Regions from separate parts of the Homo sapiens genome. Here all the other regions are reported to be linked to region 2. The links are microRNA targets in miRTarBase. Many come from high-throughput screens and were not tested one by one. Region 2 holds a microRNA gene; each other region holds the end of a gene's coding sequence.

What was found. Region 2 holds the annotated microRNA hsa-miR-586 (UAUGCAUUGUAUUUUUAGGUCC, at 2,647-2,668, opposite strand). A microRNA usually pairs through its seed, bases 2 to 8, with sites in the 3' UTR of a target mRNA and lowers its output. Matches are read on the target gene's strand: a 7mer-m8 pairs with bases 2 to 8, a 7mer-A1 pairs with bases 2 to 7 and ends in A, and an 8mer does both.
Region 1: miRTarBase lists EHD3 as a target of hsa-miR-586. Seed matches in the 3' UTR shown: 7mer-A1 at 814-820.
Region 3: miRTarBase lists KCNJ2 as a target of hsa-miR-586. Seed matches in the 3' UTR shown: 8mer at 5,428-5,435 and 7mer-m8 at 2,914-2,920.
Region 4: the mRNA of FOXG1 is a reported target of hsa-miR-586. The part of its 3' UTR that is shown has no 7-base or 8-base seed match.

Annotation. Positions count from the first base shown.
Region 1 is chr2:31,265,999-31,273,123 of GRCh38, forward strand. It overlaps EHD3 (EH domain containing 3), which reads left to right. Exons shown (of 6, transcript NM_014600.3): 6 at 179-3,453. The coding sequence ends at 706. Among named protein-coding and RNA genes, the nearest start is that of EHD3, 35 kb to the left of the region's middle.
Region 2 is chr6:45,195,088-45,202,212 of GRCh38, forward strand. MIR586 (microRNA 586) reads right to left here and starts at 2,683; the gene lies at 2,587-2,683. The region is part of intron 2 of SUPT3H (SPT3 homolog, SAGA and STAGA complex component); the gene reads right to left.
Region 3 is chr17:70,175,366-70,182,481 of GRCh38, reverse strand. It overlaps KCNJ2 (potassium inwardly rectifying channel subfamily J member 2), which reads right to left. Exons shown (of 2, transcript NM_000891.3): 2 at 2,438-7,116. The coding sequence ends at 6,159. Among named protein-coding and RNA genes, the nearest start is that of KCNJ2, 9.4 kb to the right of the region's middle.
Region 4 is chr14:28,767,920-28,775,041 of GRCh38, forward strand. It overlaps FOXG1 (forkhead box G1), which reads left to right. Exons shown (of 1, transcript NM_005249.5): 1 at 1-2,358. The coding sequence ends at 830. It overlaps LINC01551 (long intergenic non-protein coding RNA 1551), which reads left to right and starts at 4,785. Exons shown (of 3, transcript NR_026731.1): 1 at 4,785-4,936; 2 at 5,441-5,514. RefSeq lists an enhancer at 6,372-6,871.

The DNA of each region.
Region 1 (7,125 bases), not on the chromosome of region 2:
CCTCTCTCATACCTTCGATTACCACGTGATGTCCATCAGCTGAGCCTCTAGGTCACAGGTCTTTCATTGTAGAAAGGGATCAGCTGTGAACATTCTGGTGCTCATAGGAGGCACGTGATAAATGGAGGGCTCTCCTTTCATCGTATCCTATCTTCATCCTCTCTCCTCCTCTTCCCAGGACCAGCTGCAGGCCCAGGACTTTAGCAAGTTCCAGCCGCTGAAGAGCAAGCTGCTGGAGGTAGTGGACGACATGCTGGCCCATGACATTGCCCAGCTCATGGTGCTAGTGCGCCAGGAGGAGTCACAGCGGCCCATCCAGATGGTGAAGGGCGGAGCGTTCGAGGGCACCCTGCACGGCCCCTTTGGGCATGGCTATGGGGAGGGGGCTGGAGAAGGTATCGATGATGCTGAGTGGGTGGTGGCCAGGGACAAGCCCATGTACGACGAGATCTTCTACACCCTGTCACCGGTGGATGGCAAGATCACAGGCGCTAATGCCAAGAAGGAGATGGTGCGCTCCAAGCTGCCCAACAGTGTGCTGGGCAAGATCTGGAAGCTGGCCGACATTGACAAGGATGGCATGCTGGACGACGACGAGTTTGCACTGGCCAACCACCTCATCAAAGTCAAGCTGGAGGGGCACGAGCTGCCCAACGAGCTGCCTGCCCACCTCCTGCCCCCGTCCAAGAGGAAAGTTGCCGAGTGATGGGGTGGGGGGACATTCAGACGGGCAGTGTTAGAGGAGGAGATGGGAGCGGTGACTACACACACACACACACACACACACACACACACAAACATGCACACACACATATGCATATCTTGACATTGCTCTGTAGGTGAGAGAGGACCATGACGCCCATGTTTGCAGCTGATACTTGTTTGGGCACACCTCCAAGTTCTCGGGATTAGAAGGACAAGAGCACTCCCAGGCCCCAGAGTCTAAGCCTAAGTCTCTATCGCTCTTCCCCTCTCCTCGGCCACTCCCCAGATACCAGACCTGAGGCAATTCACTTGCCAGCACAGATGGCCAACCCACCTCCAGATTCCCCAGTGCTTCCACACCCGGGCTCTGAGCAAATGGAAAAGACTTTTCATTTAGTAGACAATTCACTTCTTTTTCTGTGCTTCCCCTATCTGCTTTGGCTTCCTAATAAGAAATCCATTCAAGAGCTAGGAGATCTGAGGGCAGGCGGGCAGCTGCAGGGAGGAGAGGTGAGAAAGGAAGCGTCTTCTAGAGACATTGGCCCAGGAGCTCTGTTCTTTCCTAATCTAAGCCTCTGTCTTCTTCGGCAAACCTTGCTTTGAACTCTGCCAGTATTTCATTTTAAAGAATCCCAGAGCGGGAGAGAGAAGAGAAAAAAATTGATAAGAGTGAGGAAATTGTCCTGTAGTCTATTGAAAACCAGTCAAGGTGGTTTTAGTTCATAGATTTTGTTAGATGTTCTTTCCACCTGGCCTATGATGTTTAGATGTTCATACTTGACTCACATTTACCCAGCCCCTCCTGCGTACCAGGAGCTGTGTTAGGCACTTTATATACATTATTCTATGTGGCCCTCACTGATGCCCCAGGGAAGTATGCATTAGCCTTCCCATTTTGCAGTTGAGGAGGCTGAGTAGCCTCAGAAGGGTTTAGGCGACCTTCTGAAACTCACAGAAGTCACGTGATGGAGAGAGGATTCAAAGCCAGGGCCTCAGACCCTCACACACTTGTCTGTGCTATGATGTATGCAGGATCCCAGCATTGATACCCAATGACAAACTATGGAGAACAAGCAAAGTATGCAGGCCCCCTGCAGCCTCCCAGGACAGGCTGGCAAGGGAGGAGGGCCGGCCAGCATTTGGTGGCCCATCAGTCTGGCCATCTGTCACGTCACAGAAGCAAACCGTGCCTTCTGGCTCTGCGCCCCATATTCCCAGCATCATAGACATCCAACAGCACCAGCAGGAGAGTGGGCTAGCCTGCTGGATGCTGTTCGTGCCTGTCCCTGCTCTGCCTCCCACCCAGTTGCCTGAATCATCCCAGCTCAGATGCAGCCACTGTCTCTTGTCAAGTGGGACCTCATACTATTCTCAGAAGGCTAACTTGAGAGGTTTGGGGCCTTGTTCCCCAGAGGGTCCCCAGGGACTCTGCAGTGTCCTTGGCAAATCCCCACTGTACTCAATGCCCTACATTCTCTTCTGTGGTCTCTCCCCTGGCTTGCTTCATGGCCACTGAACCAATCACTTTGTATGCTATGCTCCTACTGTGATGGAAAACAAAATGAGTATAACTTATTTTATATCCATATTCAGACTATATAGAGAATATTCTATGCATCTATGACGTGCTTACTACTGCAGTGCATTTGTCATTAGTCTTCATGTTAATACAGTACATTTATTCTTTGGTACCTGCCTGGCCACAGAGCATCATTCAATGGAGGCTGAGGGAGAAGGGCTGGGTTCTTACTTGGAGTTCCTGGTGAAATCTTTGGCTGGAAAGGGCTCACTGGGGCCACCCAATGGCCAGCATCCACAACCAGCTTCCCAGTGGGCTGGAGTTTGTCTAGGCTCAGTGACCAACCCAGGCACAGCTGGTGGAGCCACCGCTCCCTGCTCCTCTGGAGTGAAGATGTTCCCTAAGCCCCTGGGCTTCCTTCTGCAAATACACATTTCTCTTTCACATGAAATGAAGGGCAGACAAAGGCCAGGCAAAGAGGTCTCACCTGCTCTGGAGAAAACCCTTGAGTGCCGAGTGCAGGTTAGGGACCATTTCTCAACTCCACACCTTTCTTCAAGCTGAAGGAGAAATGGGAAGGAAATAGCAGAGGTAGGTGAAGTTCCTGTCTTTTTATTTTATAGGAAAGGGAGATGTCTGTTATCCCCTTTCTTCACTGCCACTGGACACACATGCCACTTTCCTGCCCTTCTACATATGCTGCCTCTCTTCCCTCTCTCCATCTTGAAGTCTCCACCCAGGAGAGACCTGTGAGGTGTGGGAATTCCATGTTTGCACAGCTCCCATCTCCCTGGAAAGAGGAACTGATGTTTGAGGGGACAGATGTGGGTCACTTTCCCTGGCAGTGCCCTCTAGCCTTGCTGCCTTGGCTTTCTGACCCCTTCCAGGCTTCAGGGGCCTGGGAGATCTCATGCCTCAGCCCAGGAAACATTTAATAGGGAAAGCAGAGACATGTCATGTCAGCCCCACAGACAAGAATTTCTAGAGCACTTGTCCTGTTGTTCCTTGCCCCGACATTACTCAGTCTGGGCCATGGAATCCATCCAATAAACACAGCAACACCCTATGCTACTGACCAAGCAAAGCTTGCCCCTGGTACCAAAGAGCTAAATCATGACCAAAGTGTGACATGAATGTAACTGAAATGCGGGTTAGTTGCTCAATGTATGCAAAGTCCCACGGACAAGAGTAAAGTCTGATACCAATAAAGTGAATGTATTCCAAAGCTAGCTTGGAGGAGGGGCACACAACGTCCTGCCTTTCAATGTGCCGCTTCCCCTTTGGAGCAGAAAGCAGGCACTTTTATAAGGTAAGGGAGCAAGTGAGCAAGGGTCCGCCTGATAGCATGGTGCCTTATCTACTGGACAGTTGAGTCGGGCCTTCCTGGGCAAAAATAAATTTTAAAAGTGGCCAAGTAGGCATACTTTAGATATAACCTCCTAGTGAATGAAAGTCCTGAGGCAGCCCCTGGAGGGTGGGAGTTCCAAGGCAACCCCTGGAGGTGAAAGCTCAAGGAGGGCATGTTTTGGTCTGCAAATTGGCAGTCAATTCTGGAGGACTATTTTGGAGCAGAGAGATGAACTTGCCCTGTAGGGAATGTCTAGTGAAGGGGAGATGAAAGCTTATATTTGCATTTCCCTTTTTTTGAGACAGTCTCACTCTGTCGCACAGGCTGGAGTGTAGTGGCATGATCCCAGCTCACTGCCACCTCTGCCTCCCAGGTTCAAGCCATTCTTGTGCCTCAGCCTCCCAAGTAGCTGGGACTACAGGTACTCCACCACCACGCCTGGCTAATTTTTTTTTTTTTTTTTTACTTTTAGTGAAAACAGGGTTTCACCATGTTGGCCAGGCTGGTCTTGAATTTCTGACCTCAAGTGATCTGTCCACCTCAGCCTCCCAAAGTGCTGGGATTACAGGCATAGGCGAGAGCCACTGCGCCAGGCCTATATTTGCATTTCTAAAGGGCTACCTAGGAAGTTGGGAATCCAGGAAATGGAAAAAAGAAGAGAGGAAGAAAAAAACAGCTCTTAGAAAACTGGGGTGCTCATTTACATGAATATTTCCAGATGACACCACTGAACCATAGCAGGGCATGGGCCTTGGTTTGCAGAGTGATGAGTGGTTGCCCTGAGTCATCCCCACTTCCATTTGGTTCCAAAACCTGTATTTATGAGTTAACTCATCAGAATCTGCTGAATGACCTGAAGAGAATAGGCTTGTTTATTCTTCCTATGTGATGCTGTCTGGAGTCTATACATCCTCAATCCTTTATTTAATTTCTCCATCCATTCATCCATCGATCTTTTTTATATTCAAAAGATGCTGAGCACCTCTTACAGAAAACATCCTGAGGGAGAATATAGAGATTCATTCCTTGAGTCATTCAAAAACACTCAATATAAAGTCTACCTGAGTGTAGAGACAATTCTATATGGATCAAAGAGCTCACAGCCTAGTAGAGGGGATGAGGCACTTATGCAAACACTGATAATACGGTGAGGGAACATGAAAGGGGGATGCTCAAGAAAGTCAGAAATGGCTTCAAACTGGGGAGGAGGTGGTCAGAGAAAGCCTGTAGCAGGATGGGCACTGGAACTGAGAAACCGTCTGGGGCCAACCTCTTGGGCCTGTTTTCTTCCTTCCTGATCTAAGGAAGACAGGCAGAATTTTTACATAAAACACAACACAGAGCATTCTCAGCCCACTAAATCATGACAGACTGAGAACCACTGAAGTATTTGTGGAAAAGCATGATTAGAATTTTGCCTCTGGGGACTGTGCTGTTTTTTCATAGGCCATTTTCAAGTGAAAATTGTATCAGTATCTTTAAAGTTGAAATGTTAAGTGCCTGGAGGGAAAGAAAAATGGTGATGGAAGAATGTCAGTTATCCCGGCCGAGTGATGAGTACACTAGGGGCACGTCACGGGCACAGACTCCTCATTAGTGCTGTTTACCACAGGTCGGTTCTCCTGTCCCCGGGTTAATGGGAGGACTTTGGTTTTCTCCCTTTGAAGTAAGCGAGCTGTGTGACTTGCTTTGGCTCATGAAGTAGGTGTGTAAGCAACATGTCTCTTCCTCGCAGAGACAAATGTACAATTTGCCACATTCTACTTTTCCTGCCTCTCCAGGAATGTGTGTGGGAGTGAGTGTGAAAATGGAGCCTAAGTCCTGGGTCATGCTAAAACCCCTTCCCGACCTACACTGGACAGATGCCATGAATAAGACATAAACTCCATCATTTTACTGTTAAACCATGGATAGTCATGGGGCTGTTACCTGACATAGCCTATACCATCATGACCAGAGACCTGGTAAGTCTGTCAATAGTTTAGCCCATGAAGCAAGTGAAAAGCAAAGAAAGTTTCTTGGAAACCAAGTTCCTGCCTTCCTAAGAACTGAGGTTGGCCAGGTGCAGTGGCTCATGCCTGTAATCCCAGCACTTTGGGAGGCCGAGGTGGGTGGATCACGAGGTCAGGAGTTCAAGACCAGCCTGGCCAATATGGTGAAACCCCATCTCTACTAAAAATACAAAAATTAGCCGAGCATGGTGGTGCGTGCCTGTAGTCCCAGCTCCTCATGAGGCTGAGGCAGAATAATCGCTTGAACCTGGGAGGCGGAGGCTGCAGTGAGGCGAGATTACATCACTGCACTCCAGCCTGGGCGATAGAGTGAAACTCCGTCTCAAAGAAAAAAAAAAAAAAAAAAGAACTGAGGTCACTGGAAGCTGAAGGGATGGGTGATTCACATAAAGCCCTTCAGTGTCTGAGTTGTATTCTGCCATATCCTAGCTCCACCCTTCAGTGTGACTTTTTAAGTTAGAGAACTTCCCACTTACAGTGTCAAATGAGAACAGGACTTGCCTTCTCTCTTCAGGAATGTAGGTACTGGGGATTGACTGGGTATTTGTCTGCCTAGGGTTACACAGGGAGATATCCAGGTTGGAAAGAGTAAAACTACAATTCCCAGACTCCCTTGCAGCCAGGTTCAGGATGTGATTTTAGGTCCCGCCAACCAGATATACTTGTGGGAGACTGTGCTGTAGTAGATCATGCCAGAGGTGGACCCAGCAGCTATACAGCTGTAACAGCAGCTCTCTGGCTTTGCAGCTTCCTATACTTGCTCAAGAAGCTGGAAGTCTTGTTTGTGAGGTTGGAGAAACAATGGCAACACTGGTAGCACCGTAAGCAACCATCTGCCACTTTGTGTTTGCCCACCTACCTATGGTGCCTGAGCACTGCTGCCATGTACAGATTGCACAGAGGGGACCTAGGCTGCAGCAGGAGAGGCTTCATGGAGGGTGTGTGTGTGTGTGTGTTTGTGCATCTCTATGTGTGTTTGGGTCAGGTTGGGACACTACACAGAGGTGGTTTTTTGCAAGATAATTGAAGATAGGAGAGGACATGACAGCGTTTCTCAGAAAGAATGCTGCGGGGGAATTTTCAAAGCAAGAATCCCTTCCTAAGAATTAATTGGGATGAATATGTGCATGTTAGACAGTTGAGGCTATAAAATAAGGACATGTCAGAAGTAGCAGTTCTATGTCCTTCCCTTAGAATTTCATGAGGTGTAGGGTACCCTTCCCCACCCCAGGGCGCATCACTGAAGTGTAGTGGTGGCAGCCATGGCCTGAGGGCAGGTCAGCACAGAAAAACACCAACTCCACAGAGAGAGTCTGGCGGGAGCAGGTGCATGGGCATCTGGTGACCTGAGTTCCTCCAACAGAACAAGCCATGGGGCCTCTTTGTGCCTCTGTTTATTCTTTCCCCAAGTGGGGTCACTTCAGACATTTGGAGATATGAGGCAACAAGGAGATGGGAAAGTTCACCAACAATGTAAACACTCTACATGAGAGAGTTTTGTTGCCAATGTGCTAGAAGAGGCATGCTTCAGGGAAGAGGTG
Region 2 (7,125 bases):
ATTGGCACAAAAAATTGGCTTTTTGTGGCAGGATAATGGAAAAGAAAGAAGGGACGTGAAATGAGGCTAGCTTAATACAAAATAATGGCCAAGTGATGCTATGATATATTATACAATGGTTTCATAATAACTGGAACAGAGAAAAGTCACAGGAAATTGTGTTTGTTATCTTACAGAAAAAGAGAGCAATGATCAGAGCTTTCCAACCCATGCCCTTAGGAACAAAAGCCACCAACTAGGTACAGGTGTGTAGGTTTTAATGCTCTCAGCCTATGGAATGCCTGACTGGTGGGACCAGAGGCATTTAGGAACCCCTGAATTGTCTGCTGTCAAGAACAACCTTGTGCTTCTATATCCAGTGGCCCTATGAATATTATCATTTTTCACTTGTGCCATAATGTCAAAAGAATTGCAAAGCACTGGGAAGATGTAACAAACTTTTAGAACACAGTAGTCATATTAAGAAAGGGAATTTATTTTCAGGAGTTAAAAGTCTGTCATATCAAATTAAGGTTATTATTTTGATTGTGATATGATCGATTTGTTTTTCATTTCTGATTGTTTTTGACTTAGTAGTTTCAATAGATTTAAATGCAATGAAGAATTGCTATCTAGATTTTTATATTTGTTCATATTTCAGTAACATCAGCAGAAAAATACTTGAAGTTAAAACTAGGGTACATATTATTTCTTTTCCTCTTTTAATAGTATCTGCCCCAAACATAAGGTGAAAAACAATTGGATTCATGAGTCTTTAGTTTGAATCTCACTGAGGTCGGTAGTTACAAACTTTCTGATCCCGGGCAAGTTACTTACATCAGTTTTCTTATTTGTAAGATGGGAATAATGATCATTCTTACCCAAGGAAGGAGAAGATTCAACGCCTATGAAGTGTATATGCCAGTAGCTGGCATATAGTAACAAATATTTACAGGTTAGAAAAGTGAGCTGACACTAGCACGCTAAAAATATATTTCACATCTATCAAAATATACTTTTAGTTTAATTTATCCAATCTACCATAGATAATACACAATAGATATCTGACTTTATATCTGTGACAATATTCAATCATTTTAAAAGGGGGTAGGGGGCAGATATATTGCTTTAGAAGTACTCCTACCATTCTAAAAATACTGTCCCGCAGCTGTTTAAAATTTATTTTTTTAGACCATAGCACCACTGTTTGGTTGTTTCCAATTTCTAAAACCACAAATAGTAAAAGTGTACTCAGTCTACTGCAAACATAAATAGCAAATGCACGCTTCAGCACTTTTTAAAGGATATGGAAATTGGCAACAAAAATGCAGTTCATGTTGAAAATTTACGACAGCCCTGCCATATTTCTTCAGAAATACAATCAGGTAAAAATTAGGAAGATCTCTACCAGCTGGGTGGTATTTTTGTGTTTTTATACTTATATTTTCACTAACTGAAAGACTTTCATTATGCAATTTCTGGCACTTGATAAAATAGAGCAATAGTACCTTTGCTAAAACCACAGTTTCTTTGGTTATGTTTAGCATTACACAAACATCTTTCACCTTAGATATCCTTTTGCATTAGAGTGTTTAATTTTAAATTGACTGAAGGGAATAACTTTTTTCAGAATATTATGCTTTCTGGATATCACTAAGCACAAGAATTGTATTTTCATGATTTCTCAAAGATCATGTGTATGTGTTTCAATTATTAGGCATTTGGTTCCATAAAAAGTGTGACAACTACTGATAAAAGATGAGAATACAAAAATGATTCAAGAAAACATGGAGAAGATTGACTTACAGTGTTGCTATATTATTTTTTTAAAACCCTGTCTTTATAAAATACGTAAAAAGCCACAACATGGATTTACCATCTCTTCCTTGGTAAAGATACATCTAAAATAACACATCCTCAGCTTCTGAGGAGAAGAAAAAAAAATCCCTGGTACAAAAGGTTAACATAAAAAATAGTATGCTAAATTCAACAGTGGAGGAAGAAGTTTCGTTTTAAGACATAATTCTTCAATACTCATTTCTCATTTTAATATTAAAATTGCTACTACATATTTAAATTGGTTTTAAGTATCAGAAATAGGAATAAAGATTATTTTTTAATATTTTGATGCATCCAATAAAATTGTGTTCAATTAACACTGAATGAACAAATAATCAAGTAAATGGAGAGAAAATGTCACTTGATCATTTCAGATTTTTTCATGAAATTTTTAAAATAAATGACTCAAAAACTCATGAACAATAGTTCATACTATGATCTAATAACTTAAATGATTTGAAAGAAAAATAAATCTACCAAGGAATTTTTAAGTGGCTCCTGTTTTACATGGTGTTTCTTCTTTACATACATTGTTACTAAGTGCATTTAACCAATAAACATTTTTCAAAGATCAGTTAAATTATGCTATTTGGTTGGATGAATACTTCATATATCCTCTATAATACATGCTTTTTAAAACTAATTAAAAAATAAGAATTCAAATTGAAATATGCAATGTAACAAAATTAAGGTAAACTATGAGAAAGACAAAAGTTTTGTGGTATTTGCAGAAAAAAATTGACAATACTATTTTTTCATTTACATAAAATAAGAAGATAAAGAGTGAAAAACCATTATGCATTGTATTTTTAGGGCCCACATGTATTGGGACCTAAAAATACAATGCATAATGGTTTTACCCCATGTCTTTTAATAAGAATTTGACTTTGTTAGATAATTGCTTTTCTTTGAATTTACAAAGTGTAAAGTGAGTCTAACTGCCATATTAATCACCAAAAAAACCCAAATTACATACAACGTAAGAAACTTAAAGCTGTATTTCTCATCTGCAATTAGCATCTATTCAGACTGTAAACTTACAAAAGCATTCAGATTTCTTCTTACTCTGAATACTGTTTAATAACCCAAACTTGATAATGTTCCATCACTGCATTTCTAGAAATAAAAAAATCTCTCAAAGTTCTCAACTTATCTTTTGGTCTGCTGAACAAGATATTATCTGAAATGTTATATGCTTTGAATACCCATTTTTACTTTAAAATGATACTTAATCATATCTTCTTAAGAGCTGGTCTAATCAATATGAAAGCCAGGCAGGAACAAAAAAATATTTTAAAAATAGCTTTTCAAAATAGGAATACATATTCTAGTGATGCAGTTTTCTGATTTGAAACAGGATCACTTTTACAAATACTGAGTGTCATTTTGTATTCAACAGCAGCAGAAAAAAAAGGTATAAATGTCTACCTCATTTGCTATAATGTAAGTTCTTAGATGGAAATACTGAATTAAACACTGGTGGCTTATGGAACACACAAGCCTTGCAATTTAAAACTAGAAACCTTCCTCCTAATACTTTGTTATATCTTTAGGTTAAAATATTTGTTTTCTTAATTAACCATAAGAAAACAAAGAAAAAGAAAAGAATCAGTCCCAATACATTAATTTGCTGAAATTTTCACTTGTGAAAACAAATCAAGTTTCAGAACTTGGGAATAGCATATAACAATGAATCAATGTCTCATCTGTAACAACGACACAGTTAAAATAACTTCTTGATATAAGTTAATTTTTAAGAAAATTAGTTTGATCCAGGGTTATTTATAACAGGTAACATGAGTGGTTTTTGACTAAGCTGCTATATCTTTCCTTGAGTTACTCTGAGTTAAGTCACACTACCTGAAGTTACATTTGGAACACCAACATCTTAATTATTATCATGAAATAGCTACCTATTATTTTTAAGTAAATGTACTAACTTCTAATCATATCTGTTATTTTAAGCTTTGAATAATATGAAACTAAATCATGTAATTAAGGATATAGAAAAATGCAACAGAATAGCTTTATAACAGACCAATTACAACACTTTATTTCCCATACTGTTACTTAACAAATATCTGTGCTATTTTATAACATTTTAAAATCTTAAGACTAGAAATAATTACATCTTTTACTAGTGCTTATAAGGGCTGTTGTCATCTTTAAAGACACAACATCTTTAAAATTAGAAATGCATACAATTTTATATTTCAAAATGTATTAACTCAAAGACAATAAAATACACCTATTTCTTAAGATCTATTTTAAAATACTGTTGTTGCATTGGATTAAATGTATATATGTGATTAATGAATGCTTCCAATATAAAGATTTAAGTCTATTTTTCCTTGCCAGAAAAAAACAACTCAGCTTAATTTTTAACTATTTTATTATACCCTTCAGAACTTAAAATTATATACAAATAATGTAACCTGAGACCTGCTCTGGTCATCTGAGGAATTACAATTAGAGCATGAATCTCCACAATTCTGCAGCACCTTAAGTAATTTTATAAAAAAAAGTATTTTTTGCATATTTCTTTAACTCCATTAAGATCATTTCCTGGGCTTCTTACAGTGAAAAAAAAAAGTCATTTGTTTTAGAATAAAGAATACAGCAAAAATACTTCGTCATCCAAAAGACTATTTTTCCTACACTATGGTCAGGCAACCAACCCCACTAAATATAGAAGACTGACATTTGTAGGTAATTCAATAGTCAGATGATAATTCTTCAGTAGTTTCACAGTAGCATAATTTTTCACATTACTTGAAACCACTGTTAAACCTATAACACATTTTCTGTTTCTCTGTGGGTATTTTTTTCTGTCTTTAACCCTAAAAGGAATATGTTTCATCTGACAGCAGTACAAAAGCCATTCATAATTCAGAAATGTTTTCCTTTTTTGCAATCAATACATGACTTTGAACTCAGGTTTTTCAAAGATTAGTTAAACATTATGTTTCTTTAAGTCTAGAGCCTTATTTATGTGAGTCTGTGGCTTAACTGACAAGAATTTTTCTGTTCCAAGGAAAGTCAGTCAGTTTGTATCTGAAATACTATAATCTAGCTTCCGTCCATATAAACATCTGCAAAGACTCACTCAGTCAAATGTTATACACCCCATCAACCAAATCAGAGACTGTAAGAATCATTATTCTGTGCGACAGATAAAAATCTTCTGTGCAATAGAGAAAAATGAAAAGCAAAATGATGAAAGAAAAACATTTATAATTTTGAAAATTAATTAGTAACAATACTCAGTGTAAATATTTGTTAACATTTCTTATTCAATTCTACAAATGTTTAATAAAATCCTAAAATGTAAACATAATGAGTGCTGTATTTATATGTTCTCTAATTGTATTATCATACAAAATATTGTTTGTATAACTGCCATATATATTTTGTCTATTTCTAGTAAGTTACCATTAAATGAAAGTTAAATTGTTCAATGTTGAATGAAAGCAAGTATGACTTATTACATTAATAAAAAATTAACCCATGATCAAAATGTCTAAAGTATATCCCATTTTGATGCACATTTTAAAAATATTAACAAACTTAACAAGATCCTAAAGCCTCATATTTTTTAGGTGCAGCTGGTAAAAAAACTAACAGATATCATATGCTAATAGTACTTATGATGTGCAAAGTACTGTTTGTAAGCACTTTACATTTTTGAACCTTCTTAATGCTCAGAACACCTTTCACTTTAGAGACAATAAAAAATGAAGCTCATAGGGGTTAAGCAGCTTACCAGAAGTCACACAGTTATTAAGTGACAGTTTGGTTCCAAAGTCCATTCTCTTTAGGCCTACCCTGAAAAGCATCACTGTAATATAAGATTTTTTTTTAATTTGAAAGAAGAAAACTGTGGTATTCACTGACATAATGCCTAGAACAAATATGTCAAATATTCTTATTTGAGGATGCTACCATAAACTTTATATAAATTACATACTGGTAATAAATGTACCTTATTTGTAATCATTTTCATTCAAAGTAACAAAATCAAAGTTTCTCTCTTGTCAATTTGAATTAAACAGTCATGTGTACAAATATACACATAAGCACCTATGTATTACTTCCTTATGGGAACAATACGAAGATTTCAATATAAACGAATTTACTAAAATCAAGCATAAAAATATTTTCTGATGATTAGTAACTTACATAATAATTAAGTATACATGTTAACTTGCATTTCATTAACCAAAATTTTAATATTTAAGCTTAAGTGAATGATACGGGTAACATAATCATTCATTTTATTTGTAATGTGAACTAAAAGTTACCCTTTCAACTGTCTTATTTTTTAAAGTTCAGTGTAATCCTAGAGTTTAACATATGAATTGGTAAATGCAAATAATCTCATACTGCAACTTGCCAACTTAAAATGCAAGAATTCATTTCTAATTGGTTGGTTTATTGCTCACTCAGAAAATTTTTATTTCTTTTTCAGTGAATACTGTTTCACATTTGGTAAAATACAGGAAGTCACACCACCAATGGAATGCGATTATCTATAATGAGAGTTAGTTATTCCATATTCCCATTTTTAAAAATAAATTAATATATCAACACACTCTGTAAAATTTATATAAACTTAAAAATACTAGTGAGCTGAAAGTGGAAAAAAACATAATCGGAATAATTTCATAACATGCATAATCATTCTTCACAGAATTTTTATTACCCAGTATGGAATGGATTATAGTAAATGTACTTCACACATGCTGTTTCTTATTCAAAAGGAAACACAGAATAGGACAGAGAGAACTTCCAGCCAAATCTTCATTCTAATCCAACAGTCATGGACGCCACTGTAATTGAAAGACATTTCCAAACAGATAGCTGTGGACCCCATTTTCCTTTAAAATAATATGTCTTTCACATCTGTTCCAACTAAAACATGTGTGTTCTTAAAATTTACCAAACTACCTTATGCTTAGTTTTTAAAATATTAACAGTTTTATATTGTTCTGCTTAATTTGCAACTAGTTAAGCCCATAAAATGTACATTTTCAAATTATGTTAACATGTTAAAAAGTAGTAGAATATGCACGACTAATCAACATTTTACATCTGTGATTTCCAAAGTTAGGAAACCTCAATTGTTTTTCACTGACTCAAGCAACTTCTTAAAATGGTACAAATCATATATTTTGCCATTATAATATTAAGGTGACTTCATTTTATTTTCACTTTGAATATCTTCCAAAATAAGAAATCCAGCTCTCAAAATCAGGCATCAAAAGCAATACTATTAACTCTTTTGACATACCCAATAATTGGAAATTA
Region 3 (7,116 bases), not on the chromosome of region 2:
TGCCCTTGAGGTGACAAATTTCAGTTAGTTGGAGAGAGCCACTTCCTAAGTAATTATTCACCATTATTATTCTGTTTAGTAACACTCACGTGCTGCCTCTGGTTTACCTTGCTTCAATTCCTCCCTTGCGAATTCTTATCTACTGGGTCTTCCCCTTTCCCCCAGCCATTCTACTTCTCTACTTTCCAAAGGAGGATGACCAACTCCCCTGGTTTGCCCAGAGCTTTTCCAGTTTCAGCACTGAAAGTCTTGCACGCTAGAAAATCCCTGAGTCCCAGGCAAATCAGGACAGTTGGACACCCAGTTCCTAAGCCAGGCACTCTGATATTCTTATTCTACTTGTGCTTTGCAGGTACTACCTTGTAATTAGATATTTCTCTTTTTATAAAATCATTATAACAACCCTCAGATAGTGACTAATCATTAGGTCACTTAGCTCCATGGTCTGAAATATCCTGAAGAAACACTGAGGTCCTGAAATAAGCTGATCACGGACTTGGTTCTTTACTTCATTTAAAGGACATAGAGCTAGCCATCCTTTATTCATTTATGCATTTATTCACTCACTCAAATTTGGGCAAACAAATACGATTCATTTAATCAGTTTTGCTAGCTTGAAAATGAATATTTCTAGATGGAAATTTGTTTTTTTCTTTGCAAGTATGACCTGGGAAGCTGCTGCTTCTGAAGGCTAGAGCTTGGAGGTCTTGCCTCACTTGTCACTCAAAAGACAGTCCAAGCAAAAGGACTCTGAAATTCCACCCCTGCCTTTTCTTTTTGTATACGTATTTAATAAAATAAAAAATAGAGGCCTGTATAGCATGCAACTCACTGCCTGGCGTTACCATAACCGGTCTGGCTTAATTATCTCAATTGCCCAGAGGATTGTGTTACACCTTTGGCTGCCTACCATGGGCAGAAAGCAAAAGTGTGGATGTGGTCGGGTTCCTGCAGCTTGGTTAGTAACAGAACTTTGTGGTTTCGCCTGGAGACAGACCTAAACAATTCCTTGTTAATTGAAATTAATCTTAAGTTTGAAATTTACCCAAATCCCACAACCAGTGTTTGTAATTACTCTACTCCTTGTAAGTTGTTCTCTCTCACCAAACATTAAATGAGGAATTTAGGAATGAGTTATGAACGAGGCAAGAATTCTGCACTAACGTATGCTGTGCAAACAAAAAGGATGTATTTTCATTACCGAAAAGGATAAAAACTGAAAAGCAGAAAGGTCTTAAATGGTGAAGCTTTTACCAAGAATATGTACAAAAAGAAAGCGCATAGAGTAGTCACAAAAAGCACAGCCTAGTATTGAATGGCCTCAGTTTGAATCTCAGCACTAATAATTCCCATATGTACTTGGACAAGGTGCTTAACCTCTCTGAGCCTTAGTTTCTTCATTTCTTAAATGAGGATAATAATACAGCCTATTCCATAGACTTGCTGTTAAGACTAAATTATTTAGTACTTAGAAAGGACTTAGAGTCATATTTGAAACATAAATAATAATTGCCATATTAGTTAAAGAAAAAAGAGCAAGGTGCAACCCATATTTTAGAATGCAAATTTTCTCCGTATTTCCAACCTTGAGAAACATTTATTTATTTCAAATTTGCCAGAGAAAGTGGCGGGACTACATATCCTTGGTAGCTTTGTGACCTGAAATGATATATAGTTTAATGGATAAAACTAGGTTTAGATGCAGGTAAAACCAGAATCCAAATACTACCTCACTGATTCATTAGCTTTAAAATTCATACTCAGTTTCTTCACCCAAAACAGGGGTCAACACACTACTGGCCATAAGCCAAATCTAGCCCACTGGCTGTAGATGTTAGTAAAATTGTTTTGAAACACAGCCATACCATTTGTTTTCATATTGTCTGTAACTGCTTTCACATTACAAGGCTGAATTTGCATAGTTGAGACAAAGACCCTCTGGTTCATAAAGCCAAAAAATACTTACTGCCTGGCCCTTTACAGAACTTATTTGCCAAGTCTTAGTCTATAATACAAAATAATAATATCCTGATTTGGTTTCTGTGGGAATGAGATAAAAATAATATGTAATGCAAGAACTCTACACATAGTTGAGGCTCGATAAAGAGCAACTACACCTTATCACCCATTAAAGAGAGAAGCAAAATCTAAACTTGATAATATTTTTCTTAGTTTTTTTTTTTTTTTGGCTTGTTTATTGGTCTTTTGTATTCCCTTTCTACCTAGCCTATTCTATCCAAAAACAAAATATGAGCTTGACTTCCTCTAACTTGAATTAAACTAATCTGTCACCCCACTGCACCTGTCTGTTGAGGCCATTTCTATGGCTCTATGCATCTAACCTATCAGGGTTTATGTTCCATTGTTTGGGAACATTTGCTTTATGGTGTTTCTAGAGTAATCATACGGGAAGCCCAAAGATTCTTCCAAGAATTTGTTTTCAATTTTTAATTTTTTTATTTAGAAATAATAAAATAAGACATAATATATAAAAATATGTACAATCCATGGTTTGTGCAGTACAATAGGAAGACTTTAGATACAAAAAGACAGCAAATGGGAAAATAATAACTATCACGATTGTCAATGGCTAGGATTGTTCAACTTGCCAGAGCCCAGAGCGGAAACCCAAAATTACCAGAAAAGAGATTCTACTTTGCTGAGGGTTGGGGATGGGCAGGTAGCTATGCCACACTTTTTTTTTTCCCACCTTAACATTATTAGACACAGAGTGAAAAAGAACTCACTCTACTTCTCAGGACAAGCTTTTGCTTTTACTGAGTGGTTTATTATAAAATATGAAGTGACATTTATTAATTGTAAGGGAAATATGATTTACGGGACAGAACTCATCAAATAAACAGAGTTGAGATAGGAGTGTACTGGTAAGAAAGGAAGTAAAGAGAAGAAAGAATGCATTAACAGAATAAAAACAAAGTAAAACAAACTTTTCTAGGAATTTGGAAATGACAACAGTGCCATAGTGACATCCTTAAAATGTCTGATTCAAGTATACTCTTAGAGGGATAGAAAACTACTCCTTTCTCAATAATCAAAATAGAGTTCACTTTGTCTACATTTTGTTTAAAAATAGGATAACCAGGAATCTATGGCTCCTCCCAAAAATATAGTGCCCTTCCAGATATGGGCAAAAATTCTTTAAAAGGGAATAAATCCGAAGTAAATCCAACAGGGAATCTGCTTGCAATAGAGAAGCAACACACATCTGGGAATCAACCCCAGATATTCATGGTGAGTCCCCTCCGTCTGCATTCTAATGACATGTGTACATTAATTAAGGAGACCCAGTCAATAAGGACAAATATTTTGAAGGTAAAATGCAGCAATCAATGTCGTGCATTACCTGTGTCTTGGCTCTTGACAAAAAAAAAAAAAAAAAAAAAAAAAAAAAAAAAATTGCCATTTAAAGCTTGTAACTGTTAAAACGCTAATAACTAGAAAAAGGTTTCAAATGAACAGTCCATGCTGAAATAAATAACAGAAGAACATAGCAATACGAACCTTATAAGGCTGGTATATATTTGCTAAAACCATGCTAACCGGTAGCATATAGGTACTAGCTCTCAGAAATTACTGCACTGAAATTATACTTTCTATGGCAATTATTTTTCTTTACAGACCTCTATTTACATTTGGCTTTAAATATGAAAATATCTGATAAACTTTATAAAATGTACACTTTAAAAACATAGCTTCTGCAAAATTTTCTTGAAAAAACAAACCTGTGCACCAGAAATTTTATATTTTTTTCTCTTTTTCAGAAATAAGTTGAAAGATTTCCCTCCCTCTTTCTTGCCCCCCCCATACCCACCCCCTTTCAAATTTCTCAAGTCTTTTTAAGTGGCAGCACTGTGTGTTTAGGGGGAGCCTCTTTTGTGGTCACCCCCATTCTCCACTGTATCTTCATTTAATTTACATATCACTGAATACTCTTTGGTTTGATTATTTTCCTTTGCAAAACATCATAATAGCAGCAGCTGAAGCCCTCAATATCCTCTCACTGTCAAGAACCAAATTGTTGCCTCTTCTGTAAGTTTTCTTTACAACTCAATCCCCAATTCCTCCAACTCTTTAAACACCTTCCCAAACCTGCCTTTACATTTGGATCTAAAACAACCACTTGCTTAACATCTCTTTCTTTGTTTCATTGAAAATAACACCTCAGTTTCCCAAGCCATCAAATCTGAAGGCTGAAAACAGCAAAAATTGTCATAGTTTTGCAGGCACGGCATTCAGATATGGCTGTTCAAGAACCAGAGACCATCACAAACATCAGTTTACAAAATACATGATTCTAGAACAAGCTGTTTTTTAATGGCATACAGAGATATAATACCATAAGAGAGTTGATTTTGAGACTCCAATTAAAAAGAAAAGTCAGTAATCCCAGAATTCACAAATAGGGAACTTTAAATTAAAAAAAAAAAAAAAAAGAGTTCCATTATTGAGCTTCAGTGAGAAAAAAAAAATTATGTTTCTAGCAAGGCAGTCAGCCAGGCAGGGGAGGCTTCTGGAAAACAATGTGTCCTTCCTTAGTAACCTGCTCTAGGGCTCCACAGGAGAAAATGCTTAGCTCACATTCAGTCATAAGTATGCACACAGAAAAGGGAAATAGCTGTTTTAGACCATTATCTCCTTTACTTGTGATTATGTTATATTTTTATGGCTCTCATTGACCCTAAAATACTGAGACATTTTCATTACTATCCTCTGCCATAAAAAAGGCAAGTTTCCTCTCCTTCCTAAGCACTTGATCTGAAGTGCTGCATCAAACTGGCTTGTCCACACCTCCCTGTTTCCCTGCTTTGGCATTTGCCGCCCTATCTGACACTGTAGGACTCAATCCAGACAGACTGATCAGAAGAGCAAGTGTGGAGGCCAGGTGTGGCATCTTCCCTAAGGTGAAGGTGGGCTGGTGATGTCCTGACAGTCCAGGCAATAAATTCAGCAGCAAGGGTTTAAACCCATTTATCTTTCATGCTGGATGGCTCAGTTTTGAGAATGCCAGGATGCCAAGGAGGTCCTATGAAGATCTTGTCTTATGAAATGAATTTTGGAATGTGCAAAAGGAAAAGCCCAGAAAAATATAAGAGTACATCACCATCTCGCACACTACACATGAGCCTGGCCAGCACTGCCTAGCAGGAAAGGATAGACGTCGGTATTGTGTGTGTGTGCCCCTTTCTTCTTCTTCCTCTTAAAATAAAAAAGTTACATGAAAGGACAAAATTTTTAAAAGCACTACACTGACTAGACTCGGTGAGTATGATGCTCTATTTTCTGAATAAGGTGCAAAATGAACCGGCGGTTCAAGGTCTTGCTGAGGTTCAAAGTTATTGTCTCTTGATTTCAAGGCAGCCCATGGGGCTTTGTTTTCTTTTAAGTGTAAGCTCCACTGTGCAAAAATATGCATTATCTTTGGTATTTATTTTAGGTAGTTTAACTTAAAATTTGAGATAACCCATTAACATCATGGAGGAAAAGAAAAAAACAACAACCCAGAGGCTACCATTCGGCTAGTGTTACATAATGCCCTTATGTAACAAAGAGAGAGAGAAAAAAAATCAATTCTAGCAAACGAATTACTGGCCTCAAAAAATCAGGCTCTTGTTTTGGCAGTTAATAGCCAAATACTTGCCACTTTGAAGCGCATCATGAGCTTTCAATAAAATTCAACACTGACTTTAAAATTACACAAAAGGAAAACTACACTGCAACAAAAATACACATTTGTGTTCATGTAGTTAGCAGCTTTTCAAAAATTAAGGCAGAGTCTTGCCTTTGTTATGCCATTAAAAACATCCTTGTTCCCTAAAGAGAAGCATTCTGGATAAATCAAATACCCAACCAAGGCTTGCCTGCAAGTTCAAGTTTTGGAAAAACACAAAACAAAACATAAAAACCCATAACTTATTCTACAACATCTATGTGCCATCGGGTCACATGGAGACATGGTTAGTGCTTTATGCTAATCATGGAGCTTACAGTCTTTCTTTGAAACCATTGTGCTTGCCTCAGTCCCTTGTGGCCGCTTGCTTGACCCATCTTGACCAGTACCGTCATCTGTATAACTGTTTTGGGCCTCTGACCAACAGACCGTGTTGTAAAGTAACTATTCCAGAGAAGGAATCAGTCAGTCATATCTCCGACTCTCGCCGTAAGGGCCTGGGCTCTAGAGGTACACTTGCCTGGTTGTGAAGGTCTATGTCAGGGGGCGTGTCCGTACTAGTGCTTTCTGGAACTCCATTTTCACTGTCGTCTTCCTCTTTGCTTGTGAGGGCAACTTCATTTTCATAGCAAAATGAATTTGCATTTGAGAGGATATATTTCTTTTCTGCTAAGTCTCTGGCACTACAAAGGGGAGTGTTGGGGACTTCGTAAGTTTTGTGGAACCTGGAATAGTCCACTTTGTAGTAGTGCTTCTCTTCAAAGAGCACAGGCTCATAGCGGTGGCCCCACAGGATTTCATTTGCTAGATAAGAGCTACGGCACTGTGTCGTCATGGCAGTGGCTTCCACCATGCCTTCCAGTATGACCACGATTTCAAAGTCTGCGTTGTCAATGTCCTGTTTACTCAAATCATATAAAGGACTGTCTTCATCTATTTCATGGACTATAGTGATTGGGGACACCAGAAATATACGATCGATTCCACTGTCAAACCCAACATTGATGTCTATTTGATCCAGAGGGATATACTCCCCTTCAGAAGTAATTCTGGATTTGAGGAGCTGTGCTCGAACATGAGCTTCCACCAAGTGGCTTTTCCGAAGATTGCCCACTCGCCACATCAAACACAGCTTGCCGTCTCTCATGGCAATCACGGCATTGTGACTGAAGACAAGAGTCTCGTTTCTCTTCTTTGGCTTTGCCATCTTGGCCATGACTGCGCCAATGATGAAAGCATCGATGATGCAGCCCACGATTGACTGGAACACCACCATGAAAACAGCAATTGGGCATTCATCCGTGACACATCTGAAACCATAGCCTATGGTTGTCTGGGTCTCAATGGAGAAGAGGAAGGCAGCCGTGAAGCTGTTGACCTCGGACACACAAGCTTTGCCCTCTTTGGATGCATCCAGGTCCCCATGG
Region 4 (7,122 bases), not on the chromosome of region 2:
ACTTCCCTTACTACCGCGAGAACAAGCAGGGCTGGCAGAACTCCATCCGCCACAATCTGTCCCTCAACAAGTGCTTCGTGAAGGTGCCGCGCCACTACGACGACCCGGGCAAGGGCAACTACTGGATGCTGGACCCGTCGAGCGACGACGTGTTCATCGGCGGCACCACGGGCAAGCTGCGGCGCCGCTCCACCACCTCGCGGGCCAAGCTGGCCTTCAAGCGCGGTGCGCGCCTCACCTCCACCGGCCTCACCTTCATGGACCGCGCCGGCTCCCTCTACTGGCCCATGTCGCCCTTCCTGTCCCTGCACCACCCCCGCGCCAGCAGCACTTTGAGTTACAACGGCACCACGTCGGCCTACCCCAGCCACCCCATGCCCTACAGCTCCGTGTTGACTCAGAACTCGCTGGGCAACAACCACTCCTTCTCCACCGCCAACGGCCTGAGCGTGGACCGGCTGGTCAACGGGGAGATCCCGTACGCCACGCACCACCTCACGGCCGCCGCGCTAGCCGCCTCGGTGCCCTGCGGCCTGTCGGTGCCCTGCTCTGGGACCTACTCCCTCAACCCCTGCTCCGTCAACCTGCTCGCGGGCCAGACCAGTTACTTTTTCCCCCACGTCCCGCACCCGTCAATGACTTCGCAGAGCAGCACGTCCATGAGCGCCAGGGCCGCGTCCTCCTCCACGTCGCCGCAGGCCCCCTCGACCCTGCCCTGTGAGTCTTTAAGACCCTCTTTGCCAAGTTTTACGACGGGACTGTCTGGGGGACTGTCTGATTATTTCACACATCAAAATCAGGGGTCTTCTTCCAACCCTTTAATACATTAACATCCCTGGGACCAGACTGTAAGTGAACGTTTTACACACATTTGCATTGTAAATGATAATTAAAAAAATAAGTCCAGGTATTTTTTATTAAGCCCCCCCCTCCCATTTCTGTACGTTTGTTCAGTCTCTAGGGTTGTTTATTATTCTAACAAGGTGTGGAGTGTCAGCGAGGTGCAATGTGGGGAGAATACATTGTAGAATATAAGGTTTGGAAGTCAAATTATAGTAGAATGTGTATCTAAATAGTGACTGCTTTGCCATTTCATTCAAACCTGACAAGTCTATCTCTAAGAGCCGCCAGATTTCCATGTGTGCAGTATTATAAGTTATCATGGAACTATATGGTGGACGCAGACCTTGAGAACAACCTAAATTATGGGGAGAATTTTAAAATGTTAAACTGTAATTTGTATTTAAAAAGCATTCGTAGTAAAGGTGCCCAAGAAATTATTTTGGCCATTTATTGTTTTGTCCTTTTCTTTAAAGAACTGTTTTTTTTTCTTTTGTTTACTTTTAGACCAAAGATTGGGTTCTAGAAAATGCACTTGGTATACTAAGTATTAAAACAAACAAAAAGGAAAGTTGTTTCAGTTGGCAACACTGCCCATTCAATTGAATCAGAAGGGGACAAAATTAACGATTGCCTTCAGTTTGTGTTGTGTATATTTTGATGTATGTGGTCACTAACAGGTCACTTTTATTTTTTCTAAATGTAGTGAAATGTTAATACCTATTGTACTTATAGGTAAACCTTGCAAATATGTAACCTGTGTTGCGCAAATGCCGCATAAATTTGAGTGATTGTTAATGTTGTCTTAAAATTTCTTGATTGTGATACTGTGGTCATATGCCCGTGTTTGTCACTTACAAAAATGTTTACTATGAACACACAGAAATAAAAAATAGGCTAAATTCATATATATCTTGATACTTTTGTCTCTTTTATTAAGTAGAGCTAATTTTTTAAAGACCAATCAACTTATAGGGAATTCAAAGGCTTTTTCAGCCAAACTAAAATTTAAACTGCTCCTTTAATTTGAACTGACTCTAAAAATGAAAATAGTATTTTTCCCTTTGTGAACAAATTTTACAAGGAGCAGCCTATTTAATAAACACTAGCTTTAAACAAAGTATAGGCTTTTCAGCTGATACCTGTAAGTTTCTGTGGATATACAGCAAAAAGAGATATAATTTAATTTTCTGTGCATAGCTCTTTACCCTGTGTTTATTTCCAAATCCATTAATAGAATGCCATTTATATATTTTGTTTCAGGTATATTGTTAATAGAGCTTGGCAAATTATAAATAAATATATGTATATGGTTAGATAGAAGTGACTATAATGCACACATATGTAATATATATAGACACACAGAGCCCTTCAGTTCAGGTACAATTTGCGCTATGAATGCTGCAAACATTTTTGTTTAAATATTTGTATTTATACTTTCTAAGTCAGCATTTATTTTTGTGGCTGTTTACCCACAATGAAAGAGTTCTAATAAAGATGTGCTGAAGTTGCAATATAGATTTTGCTGAAGTGATCACCTGTTTAATGACTTGCAGATCAATGTTTATATTTTATTTTAAAATTATAACAATTTAGAATTCTAGATATTCAGAAGTAAAATGCCTCTTTTTTTAATTTTTACAATGTAGAGGTATTTATTTGATTCCCTTTTAAATGTCTGTGTAATTCAATCTAGAGATTTGTTCCTTTTGTTTAGTCATAATTTTAACTTTCCATATGCATATGTATGCATATACTGTATATGCGTATATATGTGAGACAAAATGAAAACATTTTTTGAATTGTTTCAGGCAGCCCAATCGCTATAATTGCAGAAAATAATTAGAAAACCTTAGTAAAAGGTTTAGTAACTAATTGGATCCTGTGGTGAATCTGTGGAGGACAAGTTGTTCATTTGTTACAATTGTATAGTCTGAAATGTGTTCTGCAGTATTGGAATAAGCTGGTTACTTCTTACAATGGGCCCAGTGAAAAATAATCTGGCCCTAAGATGTTATCAGCAAACACTTAGACAGTTGCTCAGGGGGAGGAAAAAAAAAAAAAGCCTAAGGGAGAAGCAAGCTTACTGGAATAGATTTGAAACTGAAATGCTGAATACTTAATATTGGAAAATAGAAGGGGGTGGACTGTGGAGTGGAGAGAGGGAAAGAGAGAGAGAGAGGATCTTTATGGTGAAAAAATAATTACCACCAAAAAGAATGCATGAGAGAGAGAGACATAAGGTGAATGATAGAGAGAGAGAAAGGCCTAAGAAAAATATATAAGGGCCAGGAAAATTAAAAGAGCTGGAACCAAATATACACAAATGGGGAATGGACAAAAATAAGCCAAGACAGCTAGTTTAATTATCTCCTTTAAGCAATTAGACATGATTTTATTTTCTTAGTATAAAAACAGTTTCACCAGAGGTCCAAATTTTCTTGAAATTTAAGTTCTTCAGAATGAAGCATAAAAATATTTCACAAAAAATTATTGTGTTAAAAGTCAAATTTATGGCTGATATTAAAAATAGTAATAAAGTCCAAGTGAATGGTTTTATGCAAAGGAAATCCCCATTACACATTTTGAACCAAAATAGCTCAAAGAGAGACATGTGTCCAAGCTGAAAAAAAGGTGATGATTTATTGTTTGCTTTTGCCATGGATTTTATTTGTGGAATAAGAATGTATTATCACAGGGGAAACATAGAATTTTGCTTACCAAACGTTAAAAAGAAAGTTGAACTCTTGTGCTAAGGTAAAGGGGTATAGATATAGAAGAAAGTTTTCCTGCATGAGTATTTTTTTTGGCCACATTAAATAAGTATACTTATTTGTATTTATAAGTGTTTATTTGGGTGACAGATAAATAGAATTTTAATGGCAAACATCATACTTTGAAGTCAAGAGTAAAACTGATTTCTTTGAATTCATAGAAACGAAGTATTGGAGTGGGAGTTCTGCTTGGACCCATGTCCAAATTACATATAATGGATATGACTAGAAGTTTGTTAGGTGTACTAGACACGAAGGTGGATATATGGAGAGAGAACTTTGTAAAGGCTTCCTGAAGCCCAATATGAACATCTCATTTCCCTTGATCTATCTTATCATCCCTCAACTTATCTTCTCAAAAAACACATGACAGTCTGGCATGGCATATAATACATTTTTGCATCGAACGGGTTGTAATGTTGTGTTATTTGTTGTCTCCAACTTTGACCGTTAAAATTAGTTTATGTCAGAAATACACTTCAAAACTTTTGAGGATTATTTTCTTTCATATTATAATTGTTTTTAATAAGATGAAGGTTGTCCTTTGTGAAATTTTGGAACTGAAACTGATCACAACTTAAAACTTGAAATCCCAAATTAAAGTTTATTTCCAGGTTTAAAGTATTTTACTTGAATTTGTCTGTTGTAAAGTTAACAAAAAATATTAATATGTAAAACACTGAGAAAATGATGTAATTGAACTAGAGGAGTTAAAGTATTATTTCAAATATGTTTCTTCAGCCTGTTACAAAATTGGGAACCAAGTGAACATGAAGTCTAGAACTAACAAGGTTTAATACAAATATCCTTATGGTCATGGAAGCCTTCATGTAGTTTATGTGACTTGCATAAAATCAAAGGCAGAGAGGCAAAAATTTAGTCTCATAGTGTATTGATTTTAATATATATTTAAGTTGGTGCATATTTCACCCAAATACGTGGATAAATTCAATATATTTAGAAGTCTATAGAAGTGTAGTTTTTTAAAAAGTGTATTTTCTACAACATTGTTGAGGAATTTGCATGCACTGGGAAAATTTTGGTTTTGAGAAATTAATTTTATGAACAGCTAAAGTGGTTGGTTGTGTTTGAGACTAAAAGCCTGTTGGAGAATTAGACTAACAAAGGGTGAAGGTGAAGATCATTAGAGGTTTTAGAACTGGCTGAGATGGGTTGCTGGGGTTGTGTAACTGTGCCTAGAGGGCGGGGTTCCTGTACATTCCTACTTCACCAGATAACCTGCCCCCAACACCACTTCAGCTTCTGCCAGACAGATGGAACTCTCCAGCATGAAAATCTGCGCAGCCATTCCAACAAGCAGGGTAGGTGAAACTTGAATTAAAATTCTCCCCTCTTTATTTTTCTACTTAAGTCCAGATCCTGGAGATATGGAAAGAATAGAGGTCATCTAGATTCTCTCTTTTGGGCACACACGTCTGCATTCTTCCTAAGAGCTACCTACCTGTAAGAGTTAAAAGGTGCTAGAGATCTTTCCCAGTTAGTACTTCATGCTAGATTTTCTTTTGCGTGCATTTTTTTTTTTTTTTTAAGATTTCTTTTCTCTATACCAATCATTCCCCTTTTCTATTCTCCCTTCAGGGCCCTTTCCCCTCAATCACTAGCAGTTAAAATAACCCACCTCAGATTTTGGCTCCCAAAGGCACCCATTCCCCACCCTAGCGGTCAGTTCTAGGGACCTTATCCTGAGGATGTAGGCCAAGGGGGCTCCAGGCTGGCAAATAGATGATGTATTGTTATGTTTTGTGCCTCTTGTCTCCCTCCCGATTTCTACTGTGTTTTGTTTTTGTTTTTCCCCACCACCTAAGGCTCTGCCTGAGGTTGTCCGAAGGATGCCGAGGAAAAGGATATCAGGACTGGAATGGCTCTTACAGCAAGATCCGTAAGTGAAAGTGCTTTTCAGAGGGGAAGGGGTAGGGTAGGGAATATGTGTAACTGACTGCTTTGGACTGAGTTTTAACGCCTGACTTTGGGGTCCTGGCCTTAAGTGTTCATCTTTTCTTAGAAAATGTTAGCAGGCTCGCTACCAACAGACGTAGCTGAAAGGATGCATAATTTTTTTCCACGTTGACAGAAATCACGGTGAATCCCCAGGTCAAAAGGATGTAGACACGGCAAAGGAACATGGAGAGAAAACGAGAAAAAATTATACGGAGAAGGGGTAGTGGGAGACTGAAATAGGTCCTAAAGTGTAAATTAATTCATTTCGTGGAAATATGATTTCTGAGTCTTATGGTTGCTACAGGAACTTCCGGGACGTTCTTAACGCTCAAAGACAGGTTTATTAGCTATCCTTATTTCAGTTAAAGCTCTTTGCTCCAGAGCCAAGAACCTGCTTCTCTCTAAAGTTCTTCTTTGGATCGCCCTTCTCTATTTGCACACTAACATAGCCAACCTTCCCCAGAGCTGGCCCTCCGCCCCCAGCTCCTTGGCCTGGGTCACACCAGGGTCCCGGTCGGATTTAGCCGGGCTGCTCCGGGTCGGGTGAGGCACTGGGTGCGTGTGGGAGTCTTCTCTTCTGTCTCTTCGAAAGACTAGGGAAATGAACACCGTTCTGGGCTTGACTTTGTCCCTGCTGGGAATATCCCAGTTCCTGGCTTTGGAAATCTCAGGCAAATAATTGATTCTTAATGCACACTTAGGAGACGTCGGTAGTACGCTCGAGAGCCTCTCTGTCCCAGAGTGGCTGAGAGCACGCGCCAGACACAGGTTGGCTCGGCCCGAAGCGAATTTGGGACTCTCGTCGCGGTGTCCTATTAATTAGCTTTTCCCGGCGCCTCAGGGACTCCGGGGTGAAGATGGAGAGGTGGCATAATGGCGGGACTTGAAGTCGTTGTGGCAGGGACCTGGCAGCGTTGTTTTCTCGGGTTTTGAACCGGTGTGGAGAAGTAACTTCAGCTGCTGAGTTGGGGCCGCCCTGGCTGCGCGGTGGCGGAGGAGGAGAGGAGAAGCGCTCTCGGGACATTGCGGCGGCGATCCCCGCAGAGGGTGAAGCCGGGCGCTGCGCAGGGAGCAGCAACATGAGGGCGCTCTTGCCCAGGACAAGCAGAGCTGTACGTTTGGGTAGCTCATATTGGCTGATGCCAAGAAAAGTGACTTCAGAACCTTGGCTGGCGCGCTTCCCTACCTTTTCCCTTTCTTCTTAATCTTCTGTGTGCCACCACCTCCCCCCAACCTTTTTTCCCCTCCCAAAGTTGTTTCCTTTTGTTTACCCGGTGCGGTTTCAGATCTCAGCACTTCTCAGCTAGTAGATAAAATTATTTGCTCTGTAATGGACATCTCTTCTCCTCTCCACTTGTTACCCCACTCGCCCTTCGCTTTCTACCCCATTTTGCTTCTCTCTGCCCAAGCCTGTGGTCCAAGGTGCAGGGATCTCACAGGAAAACAGGTAGCCTCGGGGTGGGAATTCCCAGAGCACTGAAGGCGCCGGTTGTTGGCCAGAGGGAGGCCGGGACTCCGGTGGGCAGAGTACCCCGCGAGTGCGGAGATT